Homo sapiens: one gene and its partner. The protein of the gene in region 1 interacts with the protein of each later gene in a pairwise test. Each region holds a gene or a part of one and is shown on either strand. Other genes may lie near its edges. The genes, in order: F10 and NBPF19.

Region 1 (3,818 bases):
TTCTGATTTACAAAGTCTGGGCTCTATTATACCTATTATACTGTGCCACTATAGCAATAGAAAAAAAAGCCCCAATATGTCCCCCAAACGATTCGGTTTGGGGGCATGATGAGAGAGACACAGTCACTTCTCTGCTCCTCCGAGAGAGACTGTAGAACATTGATGAAGCGTGTGATCCATTCATGTGTAAACAGGAGTGGACTCTCTGTTTTCCTTGGGGCCAAGTGCATTGCCCTGTTATTCCTGCTCCTTGTGACCCTGTGCAGTGATTCTAAATCACCTCTTATTTATGTGTATGGATGCAGGTGTCAATATTTGTGAATATTTGTGATTGGCCAATTATAAAAATTTGATACATTTAATTAGTTCTACGTGGAAAAATCACTAAGTGCTTTCTCTAATGTGGTGATTAAGTTTTAAATAAAAAGTTAGGCTACTGTTAGATCAATTTCCCTAAGGAAAAAGATTTGCATTTCTTTTAAAGTACTTAATTGATCATCTTTTTTTTTTTTTTTTTTGAGATGGAGTCTCGCTCTGTGGCCCAGGCTAGAGTGCAGTGGCACGATCTCAGCTCACCGCAAGCTCCGCCTGCCAGGTTCACGCCATTCTCCTGCCTCAGCCTCCCAAGTAGCTGGGACTATAGGCCCCGGCCACCAGTCCCGGCTAATTTTTTTTTTTTTTAATTTTTTAGTGGAGACGGGGTTTCACCGTGTTAGCCAGGATGGTCTCGATCTCCTGACCTGGTGATCCGCCCGCTTCGACCTCCCAAAGTGCTGGGATTACAGGCGTGAGGCACAGCGCCGGCCTAATTGATCATCTTTAGACTGTGTTCTTAGATTGGATTACTTTTGAGTTTTCCCTGATGAGAATATCAATTACGCATCATTCCATTCCAAGTCCGCAGTCGCCTCCCTGGAACACCATTTGGTAACTTATGAGGCATAACCCTGTTCAGGCTCCCAGGGCTATTATGCACATTTTCTAAAATTTCAGGCATGTTGATCTTTGCACTGTGATTACTTTTTCATCAAAAGCCACACAGAGGGATGTGGAGTGACCGTAATGTGAGTGCTGCTGGGGCAGGGGGTACCGGCCATCCCGGAGGTGTGAGGGGCAGGTACCTGGAGCCTGGCTTCTGGCTACACCGGGCACTGCACCATGAGCTCCCCGTGACCCGTGAGGTTGCCCTTCAAGGCAAGTGTACCTGTCGCCTGGCTCTGGCCCTTTGCTCAACCCAATGGCCGCTTTGTGGCTGACAGGCAAGTGGATGTAGCTGGCACCCTTGGGCCAGCCCAGCCTCCATTTCTCCAGCTGTCCCCAGAGCCAACGTGCCTCTCCTTTGCAGTCACACGGAAGCTCTGCAGCCTGGACAACGGGGACTGTGACCAGTTCTGCCACGAGGAACAGAACTCTGTGGTGTGCTCCTGCGCCCGCGGGTACACCCTGGCTGACAACGGCAAGGCCTGCATTCCCACAGGTAGGAGGCACGTTGGGCCACAGCCACCCGCTGCCGCTGGGCCGGGCCAGGGAGGACAAGCCCGTGCCAGGGGGTGGGGACACAGGCATGTTCTGGGCGGGCCTGGCAGGTAACAGTGACACCAAGAGGACAGGACTGAGCCCTGGGCTCCGGGCCCAGGTGGTTCAAACATGAAGACCATGAGGTTTGGAAACAGACCCATTATTTCTGTAAGCCAGATCTGCTGTTTAACCTCAGCTTCCCCATCTGACAAATGGGACCAACACTATTGCCTGACTGCTTGGGTGATCCCTGGAGCACTTTGCATGATGCCTGGCCCACCGCAGGCCCTCAGTCTGCATTGGGACTGTGGGGGGATCCAGTGCAAGGGCTCAAAGCACCAGGGCAGGCAAAGGGCAGAGCTGGCCCGAGGAACTGGAGCTAAGGTGCGGGGCTGGGATAGGAGTCAGGGGACGCTCAGGCTCTGAGCTCCTTTTACCAGGACCAGTGTTCATTGAACGTAGTTTTTCTTTTCCTTGATGAATGTGGACAACAGGCGGCCAGAGGGCAGTGAGCACAGGACAGGCAGGGGACTGGGCAGGGTGGGGACGAGCCTCCCTGTCCTGACCCCGTGGGCATTGCCTACGCTGGGCTTGCCTGGCTGCCGGCACTTCCACACGGCCAGCACACATGAGGCCCTCGAAGGCGGGGCCTAGGCGTCACAGCTGCACCTTGCACAGCAACCCCACTCCCACTCATAGCTGGCCCGACCCGCAGCGTTGGCCTCACCCGGGGGCATATTCGAAGGGCAGAGTTCCAGGCCCGCCTTTTCAAGAGCCTGGTGACCCAGCTCACCTTCCGGCTTCAGGTGCGGCTCAGCCCCCAGACCGTGTTCTGCCCCCGGCTACCATGACTGTCCCCTCCAGACACAGGTTACTCCCGAGTGTTCTGTCACTCTTCCTTTCATATCCTTCTTACCGAAAACAATTTACTTCCAAAGATGAGTGATCACGAAAAGACCGGGTTCCATATGCATCCTTCAAGCGCTGCTTCAATTATGTGCCTGAAACATCTCAGCAAGTGAAAGACACTGTGGCTGACCTTGCTACTGGCAATGACATTCAAGCTTAAGCTGGTTAAAAAATATTTTAACTGAAGTCATTTCTTGACATACACACGAATATTTTTTAATTCTAGAAACAATCACAAATCCATTTAAAACCAAGTGTGGGCCGGGTGCAGTAGCTCATGCCTGTAATCCCAGCATTTTGGGAGGCCAAGGCGGGCGGATCATGAGGTCAGGAGATCGAGACCATCCTGGCCAACACAGTGAAACCCCGTCTCTAGTAAAAATACAAAAAAAAAAAAAAATTAGCTGGGCATGGTGGTGCACGCCTGTAGTCCCAGCTGCTCAGGAGGCTGAGGCAAGAGAATGGCGTGAACCTGGAAGGCGGAGCTTGCACTGAGCACTGAGCCGAGATTGCGCCACTGCGCTCCAGCCTGGGCAACAGAATGAGACTCTGTCTCAAAAAAAAAAAAAAAAAAAAAATCAAAAGGCAAATGTGATGTGTGAAAATAAAATTACATAATCTACTTTGTAGTGCAAAAAGTTCAGGCTGGGCAAGGTGGCTCACGCCTGTAATCCCAGCACTTTGGGAAGCCAAGGTGGGTGGATCACCTGAGGTCAGGAGTTCAAGACCAGCCTGGCCAACATGGTGAAACCCTGTCTCTATAAAAAAAAAAATACAAAAACTTAGCTGGGCGTGGTGGCGCACGCCTGTAATCCCAGCTACTCGGGAGGCTGAGGCAGGAGAATCGCCTGAACCCAGGAGGTGGAGGTTGCAATGAGCCAAGATCATGCCATTGCACTCCAGCCTGGGAGACAAGAGAGAAACTCCATCTCAAAAAAAAAAAAAAGTTCAGTTCCAAATAATGGATGAACTCAGAACTTGGAAGGGTGGTGACTGCACACATGGACAGAGCTGAGGCACGGCGGGGTGGAGGCCCCTGCGGCTGGCAGATTCACCGGAGCCTCCTCAGACTGCGCAGGAGCACAGCAAGTAAACAGCTAAGCTGTGCCCATCTGACCCCAGACACGTGTGGCCACAGAGAAGCCCCTTGCCATCCATTCCCCCCTCCTCTCCTCTCCTGCTCCCCCACACCCCTGCCTTCCTCCAACATGTTTCAGCCATTCTCTTGGCCTTGGTGCCCTAATTGGCCGTTATACAAAAGGAAGCTTCCTAACATCTCGGCGTGGCCTCTCTGGGAGCTGTGCTATTCCAGACGCTCTCCTGTGCCTCCAGTTGTTTGCGTGCGCCATTCCTTCTGCCTGAAAACTTTTTTTTCTTCAATGTTTCATTAG
Region 2 (3,818 bases), on another chromosome or scaffold:
ATGTTATTCGACTCCTTCAGGTTATCTTGAACTGCCTGACTTAGGCCAGCCCTACAGCAGTGCTGTTTACTCATTGGAGGAACAGTACCTTGGCTTGGCTCTTGACGTGGACAGTGAGTACCTTACTATGAAGGTGATAAGCCTCCACCTGGTCTTCCAGATAGGGGTGATATTCCTGTTCCAAGTGGCCCTTACTGACCCGAGAGATGTCATTGCCGCAGGCAGGACCTATGGGCGCATATAGGTTGTAATGAAACTGTAGTCTCAGTTGGAAGCCTAGACATGAAATGGGTCAGTGAGCAAGGCTCTATTCCTAGTCTCCAGCCATGCCTGTGGCAACCTGAGCCCGCTCTCAGCACATTGGACCCAGGCAGATGTAAAAAATTCACAGAACTATGATTTGGACTCAAGGGTTTGTAGATTTCCTCCTTCATTCTAATTTCAGTGTCTAAAATTCTTACATCCATGAACGAGCTGGGCATTTGATGAGACAGGGCTGAATACTGCAGTTTTCCTCCTAGAAATCATCTGGGGCATTTTCTTTGAACTGATGGGAACAATAAGGCATAACTGTTTGCACAAACTTGGGATAAGTGATTTTGGGATAACGATCTTCCAGAATGGGGATATTTCACCCTTGGTTCTGAGATGCAAACCAAAGAATATCATGACCAGCTTTCAGGCCTCCTGAAGTATATCTCTCACATTGTCCTGTTCTCATGCTGAGGAGCCTGAGATCCCTGTGTGGGGATTAGACAGTGGACTGTTATGGGTGTAGGTGAATTGGCTTATTTTGTCTGTCCCTGTCTGAATGTATTGCAGGAATTAAAAAGGACCAAGAAGAGGAAGAAGACCAAGGCCCACCATGCCCCAGGTAACTGAGCAATTGTGAACAGCTACTTCTGTGTTGACATCTGGAGACTCCTGGTTCAGGGAAAACAGAGCGGGCTGACATTATCGATTACATCTTTTCAAGCAAGCCTGAATTATTCCTACTAACATTGCTGTTGGTTTTCATTGCAGTAGATATTTAGGTTTCCATTTCTTCCTCCCCTTATCATTTACTAACCTACTGTAGGTGGACCAGACTTCAAAAACTGTATTCTCATGGCGACTGCATGGAAACTTGAACACATTTTATGGAAAATTATTGAGCACAGTCTTTTCATGATCACTGTATGCTGTGTGTCCTGAGGGCACTAACTCAGAGTGTCCTGTTACTCCCTCATCAGTGTGTCACCTGGACAATTCACTGAGCTCGTTCTCTCTCTCTCTGTGTGTGTGTCTGTGTGTGTGTGTGTGTCTATCTGTCTTTCTCTTTCATTCTTTTCCATTTGGCCCTGTTCTGTCCCAACATGAAGGCAATAATTTGTTACCTCATTAATGGATCTATCCTTTTACTTTCTTAACCACTTCCTTATGCTACCCATGAAACCTAGTTGGGGCTCTGTTGTGTGTGATTTCCCCTGGCTTATTCTTTACTTTTTCCTCCTTTTCCAGGCTCAGCAGGGAGCTGCTGGAGGTAGTAGAGCCTGAAGTCTTGCAGGACTCACTGGATAGATGTTATTCAACTCCTTCCAGTTGTCTTGAACAGCCTGACTCCTGCCAGCCCTATGGAAGTTCCTTTTATGCATTGGAGGAAAAACATGTTGGCTTTTCTCTTGACGTGGGAGGTGAGTACCTTTCTATGAAGGTGATAAGCATCCACTGAGTCTTCCATATAAAGATCATATTCCTGCTCCAAGTGGCCATTACTGAGCTGAGAGATGTCATTGCCGCAGTGAGGACCTATAGGCACATGTAGGTTGAATGAAACTCTAGTTCTACCTGGAAGCCCAGACATGGGATGGGTCAGTGAGCATGGCTCTCTTCCTAGTCTCAGGCCATACCTGTGGCACTCTGATTCTACTCTCATGACATTGGACCTGGGCAGATGTGACAAATTCAGAGAACTATGATTTTGACTCAAGGGTTTGTAGATTTCCTTTTTCACTCTAATTTCAGTGTCTAAAGTCCTCACAACCATGAACAATCTGAGTATTTGATGAGACAGGGCTAAATATTGCAGTTTTTCTCCCAGAAATCATTTGAGGGTATTTGCTTTAAATTGATTGGAAAAATATGGCATAACTGTTTGCACAAACTTGGGACAAATGATATTGGGATAACGATCTACTAGAATAGGGACATTTTACCCACAGTTTCTGGGAGAAAAACCGAGGAATTTCTATCATGACCAGCCTTCAGGCCTCCTGAAATATATCTCTCACAGTGTCCTATTCTTATGCTGAGGAGCCTGAGGTCCCTGTGTGAGGATTAGACAGTGGATTGTTATGTGTGTAGGGGAATCAGCTTAATGTGTCTGTCCATGTCTGAATTTATTGCAGAAATTGAAAAGAAGGGGAAGGGGAAGAAAAGAAGGGGAAGAAGATCAAAGAAGGAAAGAAGAAGGGGAAGAAAAGAAGGGGAAGAAGATCAAAACCCACCATGCCCCAGGTGACTTTCAGCAATTGTGGATGCTTAATTCTGTGTTAACACCTGGAGGCAACAGATTCAGGGAAACCAGAGTGTGTTTGATGTCATGTTTTCAACGAAGGCTGAATTACTCCTACTGTCATTGCTGTTGGTTTTCATTGCAGTAGATGTTTAGGTTTCCATTTCTTCCTCCCCTTATCATTTACTAGCGTACCATAGGTTGACCATACTTCAAAAGCTGTACTCTCATGGCCACTGCATCGAATTTTGAGCATATTTTATGGAAAACTATTGAGCTCACTCTTTTCATGATCACAGTTTGCTGTGTGTCATGAGGGCACTAACTCAGAGTGTCCTTTTACTCCCTTACCAGTATGTCACCTGGCCAATTCACTAGGTCACTTTCTCTCTGTCTCTGTCTCTGTCTCTCTCTCTCTGTCTTTCTCTTTCATTGTTTTCTACCTGGCCCTGTTCTATCCCAACATAAAGGCAATAAATTTTTTTTTTTACCTCATTAATGGATCTATCCTTTTTCTTTTCTAACCACTTCCTTATGTGACTTCTGAAATCTAGTGGGGCTCTGTGGTGTCTGATTTTCCCTGGCTGCTTCTTTAGTTTTGTCTCCTTTTCCAGGCTCAACAGCGTGCTGATGGAAGTGGAAGAGCCTGAAGTCTTACAGGACTCACTGGATGGATGTTATTCGACTCCGTCAATGTACTTTGAACTACCTGACTCATTCCAGCACTACAGAAGTGTGTTTTACTCATTTGAGGAAGAGCATATCAGCTTCGCCCTTTACTTGGACAATAGGTTTTTTACTTTGACGGTGACAAGTCTCCATCTGGTGTTCCAGATGTTAGTCATATTCCCACAATAGGCAGCCCTTACTAAGCCGAGAGATGTCATTCCTGCAGGCAGGACCTATAGGCACGTGAAGATTTGAATGAAACTACAGTTCCATTTGGAAGCCCAGACATAGGATGGGTCAGTGGGCATGGCTCTTTTCCTATTCTCAAACCATGCCAGTGGCAACCTGTGCTCAGTCTGAAGACAATGGACCCACGTTAGGTGTGACACGTTCACATAACTGTGCAGCACATGCCGGGAGTGATCAGTCGGACATTTTAATTTGAACCACGTATCTTTGGGTAGCTACAAAATTCCTCAGGGATTTCATTTTGCAGGCATGTCTCTGAGCTTCTATACCTGCTCAAGGTCAGTGTCATCTTTGTGTTTAGCTCATCCAAAGGTGTTACCCTGGTTTCAATGAACCTAACCTCATTCTTTGTGTCTTCAGTGTTGGCTTGTTTTAGCTGATCCATCTGTAACACAGGAGGGATCCT

Evidence for each region.
Region 2: the proteins of F10 (region 1) and NBPF19 interact in a two-hybrid assay, tested with the Homo sapiens proteins (one large-scale study listed by BioGRID).

The regions. Positions count from the first base shown.
Region 1 is NC_000013.11:113,139,574-113,143,391, forward strand, and holds part of F10 (coagulation factor X isoform 1 preproprotein), read left to right. Parts: intron 1-1,345; coding exon 1,346-1,477; intron 1,478-3,818. UniProt on the Homo sapiens protein: Factor Xa is a vitamin K-dependent glycoprotein that converts prothrombin to thrombin in the presence of factor Va, calcium and phospholipid during blood clotting.
Region 2 is NC_000001.11:149,551,387-149,555,204, forward strand, and holds part of NBPF19 (NBPF family member NBPF19), read left to right. Parts: coding exon 1-113; intron 114-822; coding exon 823-874; intron 875-1,500; coding exon 1,501-1,673; intron 1,674-2,387; coding exon 2,388-2,496; intron 2,497-3,108; coding exon 3,109-3,352; 3' UTR 3,353-3,818.